Linked DNA regions of Homo sapiens. The protein of the gene in region 1 purifies or fractionates together with the protein of each later gene. This does not show direct contact. Each region holds a gene or a part of one and is shown on either strand. Other genes may lie near its edges.

Evidence for each region.
Region 2: the proteins of CYYR1 (region 1) and GOPC purify together in Homo sapiens (affinity purification with mass spectrometry; 2 studies listed by BioGRID and IntAct, with this or other methods). This does not show direct contact.
Region 3: the proteins of CYYR1 (region 1) and MAGI1 purify together in Homo sapiens (affinity purification with mass spectrometry; 3 studies listed by BioGRID and IntAct, with this or other methods). This does not show direct contact.

Annotation. Positions count from the first base shown.
Region 1 is NC_000021.9:26,570,212-26,577,675, forward strand, and holds the start of CYYR1 (cysteine and tyrosine-rich protein 1 isoform 1 precursor), read right to left. Parts: upstream 3,076-7,464; 5' UTR 3,054-3,075; coding exon of another isoform or gene 2,730-3,053; coding exon 2,657-2,729; intron 1-2,656.
Region 2 is NC_000006.12:117,564,507-117,571,619, forward strand, and holds part of GOPC (Golgi-associated PDZ and coiled-coil motif-containing protein), read right to left. Parts: intron 6,450-7,113; coding exon 6,354-6,449; intron 5,353-6,353; exon of another isoform or gene 5,231-5,352; coding exon 5,066-5,230; intron 2,529-5,065; coding exon 2,348-2,528; intron 1-2,347.
Region 3 is NC_000003.12:65,426,835-65,433,947, forward strand, and holds part of MAGI1 (membrane-associated guanylate kinase, WW and PDZ domain-containing protein 1), read right to left. Parts: intron 4,048-7,113; coding exon 3,865-4,047; intron 3,307-3,864; coding exon 2,686-3,306; intron 1-2,685. UniProt on the Homo sapiens protein: Plays a role in coupling actin fibers to cell junctions in endothelial cells, via its interaction with AMOTL2 and CDH5. May regulate acid-induced ASIC3 currents by modulating its expression at the cell surface.

The DNA.
Region 1 (7,464 bases):
TCCAAGTTAGTATCCCTGAAAATCAGCCAACTTAAACTTTCTTCAATGACTTTTTGCTGAAAGGTGTGGTCTGGAAGAAGGTTCCCCAACTCACCCCTGACTCCCAACTCACCCTGCCTCCCACCTTAAGGAATGCGCAGAACAGGAAAAGCAGTATCTGGCTTGAAGCACTTGCTTAGAAATGGCCCTTGCAAGCTATAGCTAAGATAAGAGAGGAAGGAAAGGGAGGAGACAGAAGTTACTGGCTGAGGCCCGGAAGGTAAAACCTTGACCGAATCCTGTCTTTGTAGCCTGCAGTGGGAGTCAGACAATAATATCAACACTTCACTGGGTCTCCTTCCAAAAGTAACTCTATAGTACAACATGATGCTTCAGGTATAGAAACCTTGCTCTTATTTGTTTAGCCAAATGAAATGTGAATCTAATGCATTTGCTTTGGGGAAAATAATTTAGATTATGAGCAGTGCATCTACTTAGATTTTTGTCCCACAAAGCTGGCAATTCATTTAATAGTATGAACTATTTTGACTTCTGTGGTGTTCCAGCATCTAACCTCAACCCTTACTTCTAGCCATACCTCTTAGTTCCAACCAAACTGAAATATCCTTTGTTGCATGTACAGATCTTGATTTTTGACTTTGATCACACGATATCCTACTATATCCCACTCCGTCTCGTTGGGTTCAGGGCGTCTATATTTTTCAAAGGTCTAGTTCCTTCAAGTCTTCTTCAATTCAGTTTTCCTGAGCAAATACTGATTGATCTTTTTGCTGAACAAAATAGACATTGTCCTCATGAAGCTTACTCTTTTAAGCCAGCAGTAAGACTTTCTTCTTTGAACATCTATAGCACGTGATTTTACCTCTCCTATGACACAACCTTTTATACCTTAAAGTAACTTATGATCATACCGTAGTTCCCAGAGAAGACTGATAAGAACATGACCTCTTACGGCTCAACATACCTCACTCAGTAAGTAATAGTTGAATGAATATGAAAAGCATAAAAAGGCCTCTGAATAACAAGTCCAGGAATTGACACCAAAGAGCTTATTAGCTAAACACTTCTTAGCAAAGATAGTAAGTCAACTTAGCACTGGCTTACAACTACTTTGTAGCTTATGATAGAGGGATTCCAAAGAAGAGAAATGAATGGACTGAAAACTTTCTAAACTAACCACCCTTGTTGCTGGCCAGCTTCGCTGATTTCCTGAGCCCTGAGGAGCTGGGCACCTAGCACTGGGGAAACAGGAGGAGGGGGCAGATGTGTAAAGCAGAAGCTTTCAGTTTACCACAGGGAATATAATAAACAAACAAACAAACAAACAAAATTGTGGTTCAATGGAGTGGTTGAATAAGTGTGAGTGAAAGTATTAAATATTGTCGAGCAGAGGAAGTGAAAAGCATAATTACTTCGAAAGAACTAATAAAGAGATTTTTTCAATAGAAAATGAATATTAATGCAGTTGACTCTGTTAATCCCTCAAATTCTGAAAACCTTATACAAATTTAATAAAAGAAATAAATGTTGTAAACAGATTAAATGTAATTCTCTTCATTAAATACGAAGAACTTATCCTACTTTTATGAATTTTCATATTAGAAGGTCAGCATTTTTCCTGCCATAAAACATCTTTAAAATGGTAACTCCTAGACAGCCACTAATTTGCATTTCAATAAACAGGCTAAAAATGTCTACAGAAGTTATGGTGACTCTTTTCTAGCAAGGTTGAATGAGAAATTCAATTCTTTTAATACTCAGGTGCAACACTGAAGAACATCATTTCAGTTGCAATATCTTTTTGAGTATCAAAGGTAAATTTCAGTGCTATATATACATTTCGTATTGGAGGCTCAGGGGTGAGCCTGCGATTTTTGTCATAGGACGTTAGAGACACAAAAACATTTTACAAAGAACTTTGCTTTTAGCTTGCATTGTTTTGTGAATATGAACTGATGCAAAGACCACGTGTGTAAGACACTTTATACCTGAATAACCAATGAAAGGCCATTTGGGGCTCCATATTAATCACAAACAAGAAAACCCACTTTGCTTCGTTAATTATTAGCAGTTCTTACTACGAATAATTAGAAGGGAAACCAGATGCCCTTCTCTTATAAACAAGTGTCTATCTAAATCAACGAACCTGTACAGATTAGACCCTGGGTGAATTCATGCTTCTCAAAAACCTTGTGTTTGACTTCAGTCCAATAGCTCAGTCTACCACACTTGTGAATCTCCCAAAGAACGAAAACAAAGCTCTAAGTTTTTTTTATTCACAAGAGGGAAAACCAGGACTATTTAGAAAGCAGAAGATGGAGAGGCCACTGCCTAGCCTATCCAGATAAGTTTATTTGGATATAGTTTACTCTATCCAGAGAGTCAAATCCCCTAAACACGAGACTGCTATTTCCAAGGTGGAAAGGGAAAGAAAAGAAATGCAAAAGGTAAAAGTTAAAGGAAAAGGAACAAAACAAAACCGCGTGCGGCTGGAAGTGCGCGGGTTTCTGCCGTCGCCTCGCGGAAAAGGCAGAAGCGTCTGCAAAGGTCCTTCTGCAAAGGTCCCGGTCCGTCCAGCTCAACCCACGTTAGCCCGGACCGTGACCCAAGGGCAGCCCCGAGCCTCTGACCCTCTCCGCCGCCCTCCGTCACTGACCTGCGTAGACAAAGAGCAGGACCAACTTCGGAAGCAAGACCCCTGGACGCACGGGTAGCCTCGGAGCGTCCATCCAAGCCGGTGGCCTGAGGCTTGGAGCGAAGGGAGAGCCCGGAACCGGAGGGAATGGGGAGGATGGAGGGCGATCAGATGGAGAGAGCAGCGCTCCTGAGAGCCGGGTGGAGCAGAGACCCGGCCATTGCCTAGGGAGCCTTCCAAGGGAGCCCGGGCCGGGCGCGTCCCGGGCCAGCGACTGCGGGACTCCGCGGAGCTGGGGCGCCCGTGGCCCGAGACGGGCTGCGCTGGGGGCCCAGGTCTCTTTGTCTCGCCCCACTGCGCTCAGGCGCGGGGAAGGCGGCCACTCCGGCGTCCTTGGCCACCCAGGCTCACATTTCATCTCCGCGGGTGGCAACGACTGCGGGCAGGGGGCGGGGGTGGCCCCGACTCCTCCCCAAGCCCGGGTTCTTCCTTCTAAAGAGTGACTAGGGGACCAAGAAACTTTTCCTAACCCCTTGCTTTGGCGATTGCTATGGAGTTCAGCCTGCTCCTTTTTAACCTTGCCTCCACTACAATTTTTCCTTTCTAAGCAATGGATGAACAACTTTGCTTTTTATCTTTAAACAAAGGGAAGGAATTTTCAGGGTTGAAGGTATTCGACAAAGAGTGACAGTGAAGAAAACTCAGGATTGGGAAGTACAGAAAGTGTATGGCATCTCTGCTGAAAGCTGATAAAATGTTTATTATTTTTTCCTGTAAATTCAGAAAAAAAAAACACAACAGTGCACACTGTCGTTATGATTTTGACGTTTTGGAGTTACTGGCCTATGCAATTAAACAAGAGAAAGAAAAAGATTTATGAAAAATGAAAGCTAAATTGTCATTAGCAAATGAAATACGTGTATACATGGAAAATCAAAGTTAATCAACTATAAAGCTCTTGTTTAGCAAACCAATAGTTTTCTTTCCTGCAAACAAAAATCAGAAAGTTCTCAATGTTATGCATGAAGGAAAAAAAATGATACGAATAAGTAAAGAGATACTTTTTTCACTAAGAAAATTTAGTAGGATAAAGACAACAAGATTCCCCAAATTATTATATACATTTGGAAATAAAATTGATCCCAATTTTTAAAATAACATGATTTTTTTCAAACCAATCTGATTCTAAAGTTTATATGGAAAATAAATATGTAAGAATATCTATTTAAAACAAGAGTAATGAATGGGAATAATGAATGGGATATTACATATAATATCACAATAATTAAAACAGTTTAGATTAACATTGGAATAGATAGGCTTAGTGAAAGAGAAAAGGTAACCCAAAAGTAGACATGAGTATGTACAGCAATTTAATTTATGGTTTAAAGAAATATCAATGTAAAGTAGTAGGGGAAATGATGAGTTACTCAGTGAAAAGTGTTGAGGCCGTAAATAGCCATCTGTGGAGCCTTATCTTTTTACATCAAAATCAGTTCTATATGAATTACATATTTAAGATACAACTATGAAAATATTAGATTAAAAAATAAGAGGATAACATTCAAATAATTGTGGAATAGGGAAGCCTTTTCTAAGCATTATAAAAAACTCAGAAACCATAAAACAAAATATTGACCAACTTGACTAAATAAGAATTAATACTTCCAGTTGGCAGACATTTAACTGGCAAAAATATTTGCAATGCAAAGTCCTAATCTCATTATTATACTGAGCTTAAAAAAATCAATAGGAAAAACAACCAAGAGATAACTGAGGAAGGATATTAATAGACACTTCATACAAAACAAATAAATATAAATATAGAAATAAAATTGACAGTGAGACATCACTTTTCATGTATCAAACCAACCAAATACAAAACCAAATGAACTCTTAAGGGAAACGGTGTGGTTATATGTACGAAAATTCAAATACACATGTACTTAATTTAGTCAGTTCTCTTCCAGGAATTTTTTCCTGTAAATGCAGTGCTGCAAGGGAATACGAGAGTGGGAGGAAACATCACCCCCAAAATAAACATAAGCTAAGCTCTTTACTGTGTTTTACACGTTGGTGAAGGCCCAACCATCCACCATGTTCTAAAGAAGGCTGATCAGTTCCACCTTTTTTCTCATCCTCGCTGGCCAATCTATCACCAAGTTCACCTAATCTGTCCACCTGAACACCACCCAAACGCATTTTAAATTATCATCTATTTCTGTCCTAATCTAGACTTTTATAGTCTTGATTATATTCAGCCTCCCTGCCTTCAGAGATGTTTGCCAGACTGAAGCTGGAATATTTCTTCTTAAACTACAGATTTCATCATGTTCACTCACTCAGTAGCATCCTGTTGCCCTTAGGTTAAAATTCAAACATTTAATCCAGGGTGTTCAAGAACTTGTTCACTAGGTCCTGTCATTCTTGTAGCCTGATCAAAACATTCCACTGGGAAGCACAATTTCTAAATAACTGGGACAATGGTTGGAACCTAGAGAAAATCCCAGGCATACAAGCCCTTTGAGTCTTGAAGGAAGAAGATACAGATGGAAGTCAGTGTTTGCAGAGCTGAAGAATGGTATCCAGCCTGCTTGGAATAGAAAAATGATTGTCTTTGCAGATGAGACTGAATACAGATCCTTGATGGGCTGGTAGCTGTGATAGAAGAAGGGGCTTCTCCCGCCCACTTTTTGACACAGATCAGGAAGAGGCTGGCTGTTGCCACTGAGGCCCATAGGAAGTTGCAGTGTTGGTCAGGATAGTCTCTTTCAGCTTACTTTTGAGAACAGAAAGACTTCTCATACAGTTCAACAGATTGGTCGAGCAAGCTTGCCTGCAAGTGTACCTTCCAGAGCTGCTACCTTGAAGTATGCTGATGCTCAGGAAACCAAACTCAATTGACATGGAAAGGCAAAGAAAGATGGCAAGCCATTTAAGAAATTGTGGTAGTTAAAAGAAAGGATTTGAAGGAAAAAAAGATGTATATACAAATATGTATGGAATGAGAAACCTTAAGAATACAACATCAGAGGAACTAAAAGAGTTCCTGGAAATTAAAATAAATGTGGTTTGAGGTTTTAAAATTTACAGAAAAAAATTATAAAATAGTCACATTAAAAAAAAAAAACTTAGATTGTTAGATCAGGCCAGGCGCGGTGGATCACGCCTGTAATCCCAGCACTTTGGGAGGCCGAGGTGGGTATCACTTGAGGCTAAGAGTTCAAGAGCAGCCTAGCCAACATGGTGAAACTTCATCTGTACTAAAAATACAAAAAATTAACTGGGCGTGGTGGTGTGCACCAGTAGTCTCAGCTCTCAGCTATTCGGGTAGCTGAGGCAGGAGAATCAGGAGGTAGAGGTTACAGTGAGGTAAGATCATGCCACTGCACTCCAGAGTGAGACTCTGTCTCAAAAAAAGAAAAAAAAAATTGTTAGATCAAATAAGGAGTATTTTTCATATAACAGAGGAAAAAAAACACAAAGAAATAGAAACCACGAATAAAAATATAAAAACCCAAAGAATGGGAATAATGTGCAGGCTAATAGTTTCCAGAGAAACACAAAGTGAAAAAGCAAACGTCAAAGAAATAATGTTTTAAAATTCTGAGCTGTAATAAAATTTGAATTTTCATATTTAAAATGGTGAGTTAGTTCCGAGAAATTTTTTTTGAAAAGAAGCACAAATATGTACATATCTTAGAGACCAGTTTCAACAAGTATAAATTTAAAATCATATACATTTTCATATATAATTTTTATGTTTCCTTGAAAAAGAGAATCTGACAGGCATCAGATTTCTCATTTGCAACCCTGGAATTGAAGAGGGTGAAACTATTTTTAACCCACTGAAAGATAAAGAATGCAATCCAAGAATCCTCTTCTAAATCAGATTTTATTAATATTTCTGATCCACTATGACATCTAGAACAATGTTTATTACAATTTTAAAAAATAGTTTACATGTACAACAGAGGTAAAACAGTTAAGTAAATTAGGGTATATCCACATTATGAACTCATATCTAATGTTTAAAATTGTTGAAAAGATCTTTAAGATATATAGTTAAATAAGAAATGGAATACAAAATGATCTCAACAGTGGAAAAATGCAGCTAATGTTTTCATCTTTTATTGAACTTTCTTTTTCCCCACTTTCTTCCTGGGTATCTCTTTTTTTTTAAAAAAAAAAGTACCTCTGAATGAGGTATATGCTGAAATTTTAAATGCTTGAAGATGATTAAAAAGCTATAGGTGAAATATGACAAGTAAGTAGTTTTAACTTATAGTTTTATTTAGGACCAAAAAGTTAGAATAGGACAGGACTCCACAGATTGTCTAGGTCAGTTTCCCAGTTTCTTACGTAAGAAGACTAAGGCCAAATTACCAAGTCAGTTAGAGGCAGGCTAGATCCCATGGCAAGAGGCCACATAGCAGATTTTGCCATGATGTGATAGAGTGTGTTCAAGTTTGATGATAATCCCCTTTTGAGTTCCCTGACCCACATTTCTCTCTTCCAATAATTTATTTCACCATAGAATCAAACGGATTAGTATAATGTCTTACAATTAATTACCTTTTAATAAATACAACAAAAACATTTTATGTACACGCAAGGGCTCTACTTGTATCTGTTCTTCATCTTCATTTGACGACGTGTGAATGCCAAGGAAAAAAAAGTACTTATACAGAAACATGCAAAAACCCCAGAAGAAAACAAGAAGAAAAACCATGAAGAAAAGGGGAGATGATTTAAGTGTCGCATTTAAGGTGTGGAAGGAATATCAAATGTTTATTATGTACCAAGTCCATTTCTAAGTTCTTTAAGTT
Region 2 (7,113 bases), on another chromosome or scaffold:
GGCTTATAAATAAATAAGTGTTGACTATATCACCTATTTAGGTGATATATATATCTATAAAGTATAGACGTGTGAAACAATAACCAATAGATACATTTTTTTAAGTGAGTCAGTTAAAAGATATATACACACAAATTTTTAGTTGAGTCACATTTTAAGTGTCTGCAATTTGCATATGTGACAGAGAAGACTTCTAGCCTCAGTTACAAAAAAAAGGAAGAGACAGGCTTTCTAATCCCGACAGAAAACAGCAAGTGTGAAATACAATGAAACCATATGGAGAGCAGCCCAACAATTAAGGTTTTGACATACTGCCACAATAGTTTTGCTCAAGATGCACAGTGAAAACAGTAACTGCTACTGCTATCTTTGTGCAGACAGTTTACAACACACAAGTTTATCAAAAGTGCAACAGTTTATCAGTTCACCATAAAACTCCATGCCAGGAGTTCAACATTTTGGTCTCAGGAGGCCTTTATACTAAGCATTGAGGACTCCAAGAAGCTTCTGTTTATGTGGATTATAGCTACTGATGTTTCCCATATTAGTAGGTAAAATTGAAAAATCTAAAAAAAAATTCATTTCTTTGTTAAAAATGACAATAAATCCAGAAGGTTAATATAAATAACATTTGTCTAATGACAAATAACTCTATGTTCCAAACAAAAAAATTCTAGTTAGAAGAGTAGCATTATTTTACAATTTTACAAATCTCTTCAATGGCTTTGTAGATGATAGCTGTATTTTCATATATCTGCTTCCATTCAATCTATTACAAGTATATGAAGAAAGTTCAGCCTCACACAGATATGTAGTTGCTAAATGGAAGAGTATTTTAACAGCCTTTTCAGATAACTGTCAGTATTGTTCTCTGATATTATACAAAAATTTGACAATGTGGAATTTGAAACCTTATCAGTGAACTTTTCACACTCTGTTATATTAAAATCCATTTGCCTATCTTGCATTTTGAATGGATCTTTTCCCATGCAAAATTTTATAACTTCATTTACTGGTGATTTGAAAAATATTGGACCATGAAGTTATGTAGCAATTCCAAAAGTTGACACATTTCACTTTACTGTATCAAAAAATCACATTCATTAATATCATCATCAATCTCATCAGAAAAGCTTAAGTGTTAGGAAGCTGTCAAGCTCATGGTGATCAACGTATGTTTTACAAAGTTCTAACTTTCACTTGAGAGCTCACATTTTATCACTGGCAATAAATATTATCAGTTGTCTTTCCTGAAGTGATGGACTTTGTTCATTTTTAAGAAAATGGCTTCCAAATAGTCCGAAAATCCATACTTTGTTAGTCATTCATTCAAGTAAAAATTGTCTTCCATGAAGAAAAATGGCTAGTTCAGTCACTTATGTACTTTCCCTTGAAACCAGCATCTTTGTTCAGTGTGCAGAGTAAGTGCTTTATGCATACTTCCCATCTCATCACAAAGAATATTAAAAAGACAGGTACTCAAAGGTCAATATTTAAAAATTAACTGTTACTGCCATTTCATCAAAGATATTTTTAAGCAAAATTGGTATCTTCTTCTTTTACTATGAATGGATGGCAAGGAAGAAAACAATGATTACTAGTACAGTTACTAGTATTAGCAACACTGCCTTGATTAGTGCTAAGGCACCAGCAGTTTTACCCCAATTGCTTTTGCATCAACCAGATACCATCAGTGCAAATATCAACATAGCAAAAAAAGACAAATGATGTCTTAGTATTATTATGAAAAGCTTTGACCTCATGAACTCTGCTAAAATATCTCAGAGACCCTCAGAGATCCACAGATCACAATTTGAGGACCACTGCTCTATGTAAAAGGAAGTGCTAGAGTTTTTCCTTAAAATATGTCTAAATGATAGCAAAGGAACTAAACCAAACATCCCCAAGATAATATAAGTTGATTCTAATAGCAATCATAAGGTGACAGTATACTTCATACTTATTCATAATTAGCTTAAAATTCATTGTGAGAGATGAATTTGCATCAAGACAGACAGACAATGTAGTCTACAAGATAGATCTACTCAAAATAGTATATTGGTCTTTGTTTCAGAGTCTAGAAAAAATTTTATTTATTTTTCAAGGATCACTTGCAGTAGAGTAACTGGTAATGTACTTGTCTTAACAGTCCAAGATGAATATAGAAGAACATATATGGTAAATAAACTGTTAGCATAGTATACAATAAAACAATAAACAAGGGAAAGCTCTTCATTCCTTTGATTTCCTCACAAAACAGTTTTACTGAAGAAATTCTGAGGCCTTCACATTTTAAACATTTAATAATAATGAATATGTTAATAATAATTTTTAGAGTGATTTTTACCTTGTAATACTTTGATTTCCCCACTTGTGTCTTTGCAACTAGCACCAGGGTTACCACCTCCTTCTAACTCATCAAGGTACAAACGGTAACGATGTCCACTCTCATCTTCATACTCTACGTTTTCATCATCAGAATCCACTTCAGGAGCCACATAAACTACTTCAAATTCAATCTCTCCTCTCTAAAACAGGAAATGAAAATGAGAAAGTCAAGTTATTGTAATTGTAATTTAAAAAGGATTTCCAAATTCTTTGTGGGAAGGCTTAGGGGTAGAGAGATCTAAGAGATAGCTGATTTCCAGAAAATAAATAATAAAATTCTAGAATCTAAAGAGGTAGTGAGGCCATCATGTCTGATCAGCCTCGTGAATCCTCTCTACAGTTCCTTTAAACATTATAGTAGCTCTTTCTACTGACCATAGTCTTTTTGCTAATAGATCTAAAATTTAAGAGGATGCTTAATTATTAAATTTATAGAATTTTGGAACAAGTATTCAGTTTTAAAGTTATTTGCTACTTTGTACTGCACACAGCAATTCAGCAAATACATCTAAATAGTCAGATATTAAATAAGGATATCATACAAACCTTTCCTTAACTAATTCAAGAAACCCCTAGAAAATGATTTTTGTACACTGCCATAAGGACATCATATAAATCTTTTCTTAACTAATTCAAGAAACTCCTACAAAATGATTTTTTGTTTCTTATTCAATAGGTCTTGAGTAAGAACTTACACTGAGTACCAGACACAGACATAGTGTTAATCAAGGTATTCTGTCTCGTACTAATAGTAATTACTATATTTATATATTTACTATAAATTATAGCCTTCAATCCCCAGAATAATCCTATTATAGTCTCTTTTACATGAACGAGAAAGCTGAGTGAGTCCTGCAGAAAGCAGATAACTTTCCCTACATAATGAACAAGAATAAAGAAAAACAAAAGTTTGACTCTGAAGTCCTTAATCTTTATATTATGCTAGACTAACTGTGTAATATTTGTACTGTCATTCTTTAACAATGAAACATTCAAGTAAAAAGTTACAGATCATGCCAGGCACAGTGGCTTACACCTGTAATCCCAGCACTTTGGGAGGCTGAGGCAGGTGGATCGCTTGAGCTCAGGAATTCTAGACCAGCCTGGGCAACATGGCAAAACCCATCTCTACAAAAAAAAAAAAAAAAAAAAAAATTAGCTGGCCATGGTGGCAGGCATCTGTAGTCTTAGCTACTCAGGGGGCTGAGGTCGGAGGATCTGTTTGAGCCTGGGAGGTTGAGGCTGCAGTGGTCCGTAATTGTGCCACTGCACTCCAGCCTGGGTGACAAAGTGAGATCCTGGCTCCAAAAAAGAAAAAAATGTTACAGATCGTTTTATGTTAAAAGAAAAATTTCCAAGCTATAATTGTCATTTAATAAGAGACTCCAACCACTACATATAAGTGTGGTGTTGGCAATTCTGAAAACTATGGCTTGCCTTTGCTCAAAAGAAAACACGGCATTTTTGACTGCTACTCACTAAGTTAGTCTCTTTGGTGCTCTTCTTTCCCAGCAGTTTAAGGTTATACCTCAGAATTTTAATATGTGCTTAGTTAGCATTTCCTTAAAACTTATGGCTGCCCATTGATAGCTCCTTCACCAGTTATCCCACTCTTTTGCTACTGGATGACAGTCAAGATGGATTGATAAAACACTAACTTAAGAGAATAGCGTAGCATTCTTAGATCTCTCTTGTCAGCTAATGCTTTAAAAATACCATTTTGCAGAAAGAGACAGATGATGCAGTGGTCTTCAGCAAAGTTTTAGATGACAGAATTAGATCTGTGAGTAGCTGTCATGGAGACACAGATTTCAGGCTTAATATGAGAAAAAGCTTTCTAAAAATCAGTACTGTATTACAATGGAATGGACTGGTTGATATCAGCAAGTCTTCCCTGTAATGTAATTATTGAAGTAGTGATGTTGCAAAGATTTATGCATCATATAGAATTGAACCAATGAACAATATTCACTTTCAACTCTGAGATGCAATTCTACAGAGGCATACCACACTGATAATCCAAGAAACATCTCAATGTACTACCAATGCCTCTAATTCCCTCAACTCTATTCTTGAAAGAAATAAAATAAAACAACATTTTAAGTACAACTGTATGACAAATATGACTCCTGAGTATGAATCTCAATTCTATAATTTATTTGCTTGGCAACTTTGAGTAAATCCTTTCATCGCTAAGAACTTTAGTTTACTCATTTTAAGAGAGTTGGGCTAGATAGTTTCTATGTGTGATTTCAATTTTAATATTCCATGACTAAAATCAATCTACTTCTAGCACTGTCTTTTCTGTAATACCTTATATATAGTGTTCTAGGCATTAAGGATGTTGTTTTTTCAGTCTCAGGTCCTGTTCTGAGTACTTTATATGTATTAACATACTTAATCCTCACAGCTTTCTTTCAATCCCTCCCACACAGGTGAGGACACTGAGGGACAGAGGACTTAAGTAACTTGCTCAAAGTTATGAAGTAAACAAAATGGAATGGTCCATTTTCAGTAAATCTGACTGAATGTCAGCTATAAAAGCATTAAATCAAAGGAAACAAGAACTATGTGTAAACACTTTACTACTTTAGAAACTTCGTAGGGAAGTATACAGTGTTCAATAGATTCATAACCAATTGATAGATCCAGTTCTAATTACATGAAGGGAATTTACCTGCTGAGAAAGAATAGTTACAGCTTCTTTATGCTTTGTGTCCCTTAGGTTAACTCCGTTGACTGCCAAAATAGCATCCCCAACGTGCAGCCCTCCGCATCTATCAGCAGGTTGCCCCGGATGGATCTCAGAGATGAGGATTGGAACACCATGTTCTTTCCCACCCTAACAACAACAAAGGGCAGTAAATTAAAGTACTCTTTGTAAGGTACAGTTACCGATTAATCTAGAGATAAAATATTTTCTTAAAAATATATTTCATTAAACACCTATGCTGTCTCTATAAATGCTGGGTAAAATTTTATTTGCTACTTAAGTAATGGTAAAAATTATCAGAGTATTGAACAGAAATTGGCTAAATTCTTAAATTAAAAAAAACTTATGTGTTAGTACTCCATAGCACCATTACATTTTATCAAGTCTAAATCACTACGAATGACAAGACCAATTATTTTAGGTGCCACAAAAATAATTTTAAGATTATAAGATAAATTTCAATTTCAGAGAAGTTAAAATATGAAAATATATGCAATGTAGAATTGAAAAAATGCAGTATTTGGTACCTATCACTCTCTAGCTTATATCATTGTTGCGTGTGTGTAGGGGTGTGTGTGTGTGTCTTATTTGTCCTGCTAAAATGTATGCTCTTTGAAGGCAGCACATAAAAAAAAAAAAGGTAAGTATTCAAGAAATATAGATTAGATGAGCTTTTTATTATAAGAAACATTTCTACATTAAGCAATACTAAAAAAACAAATGATCTTGCTCAGTGCCTAAGTATTACCAAATGAAAATTAAAGCCACCTTATTCATTAAAGCACTGAGATGACAACAAAATGACTCCTAAAGGCATCGAATTTAAAAAAAAGAATATATAACATTTGGACCCAAGAGCCAGTGAAATCTGACAGCTAATAAATGAGGCAAGAGAAAGATACACGTACTCCGAGAGAGAACAATACAATCTGAAGCCATTTAACATAGAAGAAAACAGCCACGTCTATTCCCAAGGGCTCCTAGAGGCATCACAGTATATGGCACAGAACTATTAAGTGAATCATAATAAAAATGTTAAACTATGCTTACTAAAGGTACACTTAATAGTTGCTAGGAATATTTATTTCTTAAAAAAATATTTACACAAAAGCAAACATTTATCCCCATGGGGATAAATTTTAGTTATTTAAAAAATATATCCAGAATATTCTGTTCCCCAGTGATGTCCAACAAAGGAGCATGATTATACTAGATAACTGTAGAAAATGATACTGGAAGTACTACTTCTTACTGTAATTGAAATGCCAAGGCCTTCATGATCTTCCTTAAGGAGGAGAACTTTTCTAATTGGACCAACACCTTGGCTTTTCTTTAGGGAATCTTGATCCTTATTGGGAGGAAAAAAGAAGAAAAAGTAGTATCATTTAAATAGCATACCAAATAGAGTAAACTCATACTATATAACTTGCTTTTAGAAATCTGTATTAACTTCCTGGAATGGATAAACAGTATAGGGTTAAGAAAGTAACAGATAAAATGGAAAAATGAAAATAGCTATTCTGTTGATGCAAAATTTATAGATGATATTCTCACCCTTTTGCCAATAATGTTTAAAATATTGATACATCTCTTTTTAAATTGTAGGGCATTATAAAAGAAATGATTTCCAGGAATTAATTGAGGAACAAATATCCTCAAAAAATAAAAGTGTCTATCTTCACTGGATATCTTTAAGATATACATTCATTTTAGCTGAGTTGTAGAGTTGAAAAACAAATTTCCAATTGGACCATTAATTACTTATACATTCCTTGGTGCTCTGGAGTCTACCTCTTAAATAAAGGGCCTTGATCCACTAATAATCTTTTCTCTGGTACCCTTACTCTTTCTGTCTCTACTAAGCTGTTTTCCTACTCAGCAGATAAATGAATCACAAGCCTCTTCCAGTTTTAAAATACTGATCATGTGCAAATGCAAAACAAAACAAAAAACCTTTCAATCCTTCACTATCTTCCTTAGCAACTACCATCCTCCCCCTTTCCTTAACCTCT
Region 3 (7,113 bases), on another chromosome or scaffold:
GTGTATTTTAAAGACTGCTGATGTCACAGTGATTTTAAATTACTCATGTTCTGAAATAAACCATGTAGATGTTGATGAATATGGCAATATATTCCGGATTTTTCATATAAATGTTATAAAATGTAACACCATTAATGAGAAGATGGCATTGGGAATTAAGAAGAGAGAATGCAAACATATTTAAAATCAAGGAGTATAGTCAGGTGTGGTGGCTCATGCCTGTAATCCTAGCACTTCGGGAGGCCGAGGCAGGTGGATCCCTTGAGCGCGGGAGTTCGAGACCAGCATGGGTAACATGGAGAAATCATTTCTACTGAAAATACAAAAATCAGCCGGGAGTGGTGGCATGCACCTATAGTCTCAGCTACTTGGGGGGCTAAGGCAGGAAGATCGCTTGAAACTAGGAGGTTGAGGCTGCAGTGAGCTGAGATGGCACCACTGCACTCCAGCCTGGGTGACAAAGTGAGACCCTGTCTCAAAAATAAAAATAAAAAATAAAATCAAGGAGTACGTTTCTATAATCAGTTGTTTGCTGGCTTAGGCGAATTCATTACAATATGGTTCTAATACATGTGTAAGTTAGTTGGCTATAATGAAACTTTATGTTTGGTCTCCTTAGAAGTGAATCTAATGGGATAATAAACCACATCAATAACAGAAATGAGAAAGAGGATAGATGAGTTAGGAGAACAAGGTGGTTTGTGTCTGTCAAATGAGCAGTGGCTGAATCAGAGGTGCACCTGATGTACCAAGAATTATTTGAAAGTTTCCAGGCTGTCAGCCTCAGTATTAAGCAACTATACAAAAATCAGTGTTATTCAGTTAAGTAGGGCAGAACATTGGACTGGAAACCACAGAGCCAGGGTGAACAGCTCAGAACTACTGTGGGGTGGCACCTTCCTACCTCACAGGGAAGTGACAAATATCAGTGGAGAGGCACGTGCAGGTATGAAAGTGCTTTGTGTATCACTGATTCTTCTATAAGTGCCAGGTTTCATCATCACCATCATCATTATTGTCATAATCGTTCTTATACCCAAGTCATTTCCTACTACATACATCTTGGCTACTGTTTAAAACCAGTTCTCTGAGCAGTCAAGTGATCTAGGTACAAGAAGAGACTTGAAAATTAGTTGGTGGAAATGACATTTTAAAAAAAATAAAATTTGCACAATGCCTTTTATAACTGCCTAAGCCAGGCTCATTGAGCATTTCAATTCACATAGACAGCTACTCTGTATTTTGGGTTTCCTTCAAATGACCCCAGCCATTCTGATCGCAGAACACACAGGTTCATGAAAACATGAGAATCTGGCTGCTGTGACACAAATGAGCTCTCCTGTTGCAACAAACCAAAAGGAAGTCAAAGTCTGGTTCTTGATCTCTTTTCAAAAGGCCTGAATATGTTGTTCATGAAACAAATCATGGTAGCAAGGATCAGGGAAACAGCCATTCTCAGGCCCACTGTGTAAAACTATCAGTCACGACTAATCACATATAAGTATATATTCCAGGAGCAAGACACTTCAATATGGTGGAAAGTATTGCTCAGTGTGACGTCCTGTGTTTTCTGGTGAGGCAGAGGGTGGGATACGGACTCAAGGAGAAAGGAGGAAGCTTAATGCCTCGAGATTTAGAATAACCCAGATCTCTGAGATCCTAAACTACTAAACGCGAGCATGTGGAGGGAAGTGTTTAATATGATTAGCAGACCTCTTGTTTCTGCCAAATAGAAATAATCACATACCTATTCACTTAATACCTATTCATTCATAAATACCTAAAAGGAGTCAGGTGTTGTGTTAAATGCTGGGGATAACAGCTGTCCACATGCACACATGGGCCCTGGCTTTATGGAGCTTTATATTCTAATGAAAGACAAATAATGAAAAATAAATAAAAGCATGAAATAACGTCTTGTGCTAAAAAGGTGATGATGATCAAGGTTATGAAAAACTGTGATAAAGATTATATGGAAGTGTTGGGAGCTACTTTAGATAAAGTGATGGGAGAAGCCCTCTCTCATAAGGAGACCTGAATGGGACTGAGCCAGCTGGGAAGAGCTGGGAAAGGACCATTCCAGGCAGAACGGACAGTAAATACAAAGGGCCTGAGGCAAGAAAAGGCTTGAAGCATTAAAGGAGCTCCATAAAAGCAGCCAGTGTGGCTAAAGCACCATCAGATGGAGGAGAGGAACATGAGACAAGTTTGGAGTGACCATAGCCACATTTTGCAGGCTATGCAGGCCAAGTTCAGGAGATTTAAAGGATAAAGGTTATTATTTTTTATATATATATAAAAAAACTTTTTAGAGAATGGGGTCTCAATATGTTGCCCAGTCTGGACTCAAATGCCTGGGCTCAAGTGATCTTCCTGCCTCAGCCTCTCAAGCAGCCAGGACTACAGGTGGGTACCACCACACCCAACTTAGGTTTTTAAATCTTAACATTTTAAAAAGGCAAAATCTGATTTCTGTTTTAAGGTATCATTCTAACTGCATATGTCTGTCATAATGTATAAACCACAATTTTTATGCTAAAGAGGTTAGTATTTGGAGAAATCAGTAGGCATTTTGAAACATTTAAATAAATTTAAAAAGCCCCCAGTGGTCATCTGAAGATGAGTAAGTTAAGCAATGAATTTGGGATAAAAAAAAAATTCAAAGAACAAAACAACCCTACTTACCTCCTCGTTGCACCAACAATGTGACCTCACTTCCCTTAGGACACTCAACCAGCATATCCACCACTTGGTTGTGAGTTAGGGCCTGCACGTTCTTCTTATTAACTTCCACTATGAGATCCCCTTCTTTCAGGCCTCGGCACCTTGGGCTGTCAACAATCTGTTTCACTCTTTGGCCACCCCCACCAGGACTGTCTGCGATAGTAAAACCAAAGCCCATTGGCCCTTTGACAATATGAACAGTTATGAGTTCTGGCTGAGTGGCTATGGAGGAAGCCAAAGAAACAGTGTCATTAGGATAACCATGAGAACTATTTGAAGCCACGTCCGCTGGGCTGCTTGGCCTGGCATCCTTCATGCCATTGACTTTGCCTGTTTTACTACTGTGGCTAGCTGGTGAATCATAGGTCTCTTGCCCATTCACAATAATTGGTTCTTTATCCAAAATGGCTACCGAGGTCACTAAACTTGTATTGGGGTCATCTGGATCAAAAGGCAATGGATAACCTCGGCAGAGTTCAAGGTCCACGCTGGCACCAATGGGGATGGACTGGAAGATCTTCACAACTTGAGCATGTGTGTGTCCCAAAACACAGGTGTCATTCACACTTACAATCACATCCCCTGTAGAAGGCAAGAGTGTGGGGGTTAAGAAAACAGCACCCAGAAAATTGTCATCAGTATTATAATATCTCCCACTAACATAAAGCTGAACTGAAACTGCATGTGGGTGTGATACTATAGGGTATAAAGTGCTTCTATTACTGATTTTAACAGCTAATAAAGTGTTCTTTCAGCACCTAGTGTCTTCCCTGCTAATGAGAATGTAATAATCACTCACAGAACATTGGAGCTTTCTCCTAAAAAAAAATCTCACTGCAGAAATCCAAGTTTAGAATTCATTTATTTAAATGGGGATCTACAGTTTTAGTAACTCATTGCTTTACTGTACTCAAACAGTTTCCCAAACTTAAAATGACTTCACAGGTTTTAATCTGTCCCAAGGGATGAATTTATGTAATGTGGAGACCTGGCTCATTCTCAAGGTGTTTAAAGCTGTAAACATGTGCAATCATGACGTTGCTTGGTCTTGCTCAAACAAACAACATCATGATTGCACATGTTTATCTCCTGGATTGGAGTCTCACCACACAGAACACACTAAGGCCATGTTGACGCTACCTGTTTCCATCTTGCCATCCAATGCAGCAGGACCATCTAGGACCAAGCTCTTGATCTGGAGAAACTCATCAGGTTCATCCCCTCCAACCACCGTGAAGCCAAAGCCACGACTGCTTTTCCGCAGCTTTGTGTGAATGAACTTGCCTTTCAACTCAGAAGGGTTTCGTGTAAAAAAGGGTTTGCCTGGATTAAAATAAGAAACGCATAAGGAATGTCACCACTGGTGAAAAGGAGAATTAAACAAGATTTGAGACAACATATAGATAATTCTTCACGCTTATGCCCTAGAGCCTTTGGGCATATAGCATCTTAAGAAAGTCCTCTCTTAATTTGAGGAATAAGGATGTTCCTAGGCCCCAGTGTTGATGGAGGGAGGTAAAGCATTGAGTATGTCAACTCCAGGGTCCAAAAGAAACTACAAGAGAGGGATGAAACTAGTCCCTGTCAGGTGACACACTTCTTGGTTTCCATTCATGCACTTTGACAGGAATTGAGCTGCCACAAACCCCTTCACAGAAAATGGAACTGGTCTGTTTTATGTCTTTTGTTTTGTTTTAATTTTATTTTGCTATATGGCTTCTGATGTGCTGCTTTGGGCCTGGCTTCCACTTGAAAAACCAACAGAACTAATCAAACGGAAAATCCAGGCTGAAAATGCACAGATAATACCAGAAAACATATTATAGTCACAAATAATAATTTGACAAAAATGTAGAATGACTATTTTCAAAATTAAGGGTCATTACTTTGAATTGAATTCTAAATTCAACTGATTTTTTCCTATTTATCTGATCTTTTATTAAATTTGTGATATAGCCAACGCATGCCTAGGGCTAAGAATTACTGTTTAAAACAAGTTTAGGATATTTGTTTAAAAAACACAAACCAAAAAAACAAACAAAGAAACCCCCCCCACAACACACACACACAAAATCCCTAAACTAAGTAGTTACTAACAGTAGCCACACAGCTCCAAATTCAGCTGTCTTATTTAAAATAAATTAGGCTGGGGGTGTGGTGGCTCATGCCTGTAATCCTAGCACTTTGGGAGGCTGAGTCAGGTGGAGCACTGAGGTCAGGAGTTCAAAACCAACCTGGCCAACATAGTGAAATCCTGTCTCTACTAAAAAAAAAAAATACAAAAATTAGCCAGATGAGGTGGTGGATGCCTGTAATCCCAGCTACTTGGGAGGCTGAGGCAGGACAATCACTTGAATCCAGGAGGTAGAGGTTGCAGTGAGCTGAGATTGCGCCATTGCACTCCAGCCTGGGCAACAAGAGCAAAACTCTGTCTCAAAAAAATAATAAAAATAAAATAAATTTACAGATAGAGGTATCGCTAAATTATTTCCAAACATGCTACCTAAGGTTTTATTGAGTTTTCTTGATACATTCACAAATAACATTTTGAACATAAACCAAAACGTTTTCTTTTGGGTTTTACTAGGCACTTCTCTGTAATTGAGAAACTTACTGGAACTTCTCTGATTATCCCAAGTAGTAGACCTAATTTCATGAGCAGCTTCTTTCATCTCTTCTAACTTTACTTACTTCTTATACCCTGTCCTTGCCACACACAGCTTCTCCATCTGCCCTGTTTCTTTTCTATCAAAAATGTTATCCAAAACAAAAAGAGAGAGAGAAAGAGGGAGACATTAGTCCCCTACACCCCTGTACTAGGAGCCTGGCACCTAGGAAAGAAAGTTATTTTTGGTTAGTTATATCTAAAAGAGTTTAAAAGGTCTCTGGGCATGCATACAATTTTTAATTGCATATTTTAAAAGTTTCTGGCTCTTGCAAAGAAGGCTCTTTTAAATTGCCTGCAATCAGAGGTCCTTTCGCTAACCTGCTCTCTAGCGCAGTCCCAAAGCTTATTGGAAGGTTGACAAACTACAGCCCTGTCATAGTGGCTAAAGAAAGGCAAGACTTACAAGGATTCGCCACGCAAAGTCATCTGCCAAGGCGTTGGGAGGGTGGTGTCACTTGCACCAAGAGCTTTGGGGAGACAGCTGCCAAGACAATTATCAGATGGAAATTGAGGTGAGGTAAGATAACCCCCAAAGTTTACTTTAGGGGGAGGAGGGTGACTGGCCTACACTCTTGTAGCAGGTGCTGCTAGGGCATTCCAGGGCCCTGAAGGGAAACACATTTCAGTTATGCAGAGACATCAACAGCCATTACCTTCGCAGCAAGACCTTCCCTAACCACCTTACTAAAAATTGCAGTACCTCCAACATTCCCAATCCCTTTTTCCTGCTTTATTTTTGTCCTTAGCATTTACCACCTTCCAAAAGAATATACATCTTACTTATTGCTTTGGTTTTCTTACTATCCCCAACTCCCATGCATGAGTGGCATTGATATGCAGGTACATAAAACCACTAGAATGTTAGCTCCATGAGGATTTTTATACGTATATCAAGTATCTAGAATATTGTCTGGTACATTTTATGTGCTCCAAAAATTTCTGTTGAGTGAGAGAATGAATGAACAAATAAAAGCACACAGAAATGATATTTATCATGTCTTTGAGAAGGCTGAAAAGAGGTGTTTGGTTGTTGGAGCTTTTCACTCTTATTATAGGCTAAGTTAGAAAACGTGAAAATGTGCCTGGCAGTTTATCTACTTAAAAAAAAATACATTAGCATATTTTGTGCTGAGAATGTTAACTTAATAAAGACATGAGCAGAGCTTTGAAATTATACGACTGACTTCCTTTTCCAATGTTTAACAAGGGAAGGAAAATCAGAGGGTTTCACATTTATGCACATTTTATTATTTTTTACGTATGGGTGGATCATTAGTTAATGTAGCTTTTGGAAAGAAACGCTTTTCACCCCATAAGCAGTGGAATTTGGAGCTCTCAGCTGCAGCCCTGTGGTACATGTAATTTTCTAAGATCCTAACCTCTGTTTACCAGTCACCAGCGGTAAGACTTGGTTGTGTCTTACCCAGGGAAAATCCCCTGGGTAGCTTTTTAAAATGTACTCATTTTCACTTCCTTCCTTAGACTCACTGATCAGGATGTTCTGGGTCTTGGCCCAAAACTCTGCACCTGAATGAACCTTAGGTGCATGTTTCCCTGCCAGGATGGGGGGAGGGGAAAGAAATGTCACTTCTTGACACTAGTGTTTAAATACCCTAGACCAGTACCGTCTAATGGCACTTTCCGTGATGATGGAAATGCTCTGCACCTGCACTGTTCAATATGGCAGCCACTAGTCACATGTAGCCACTGAGCCCTTGAAA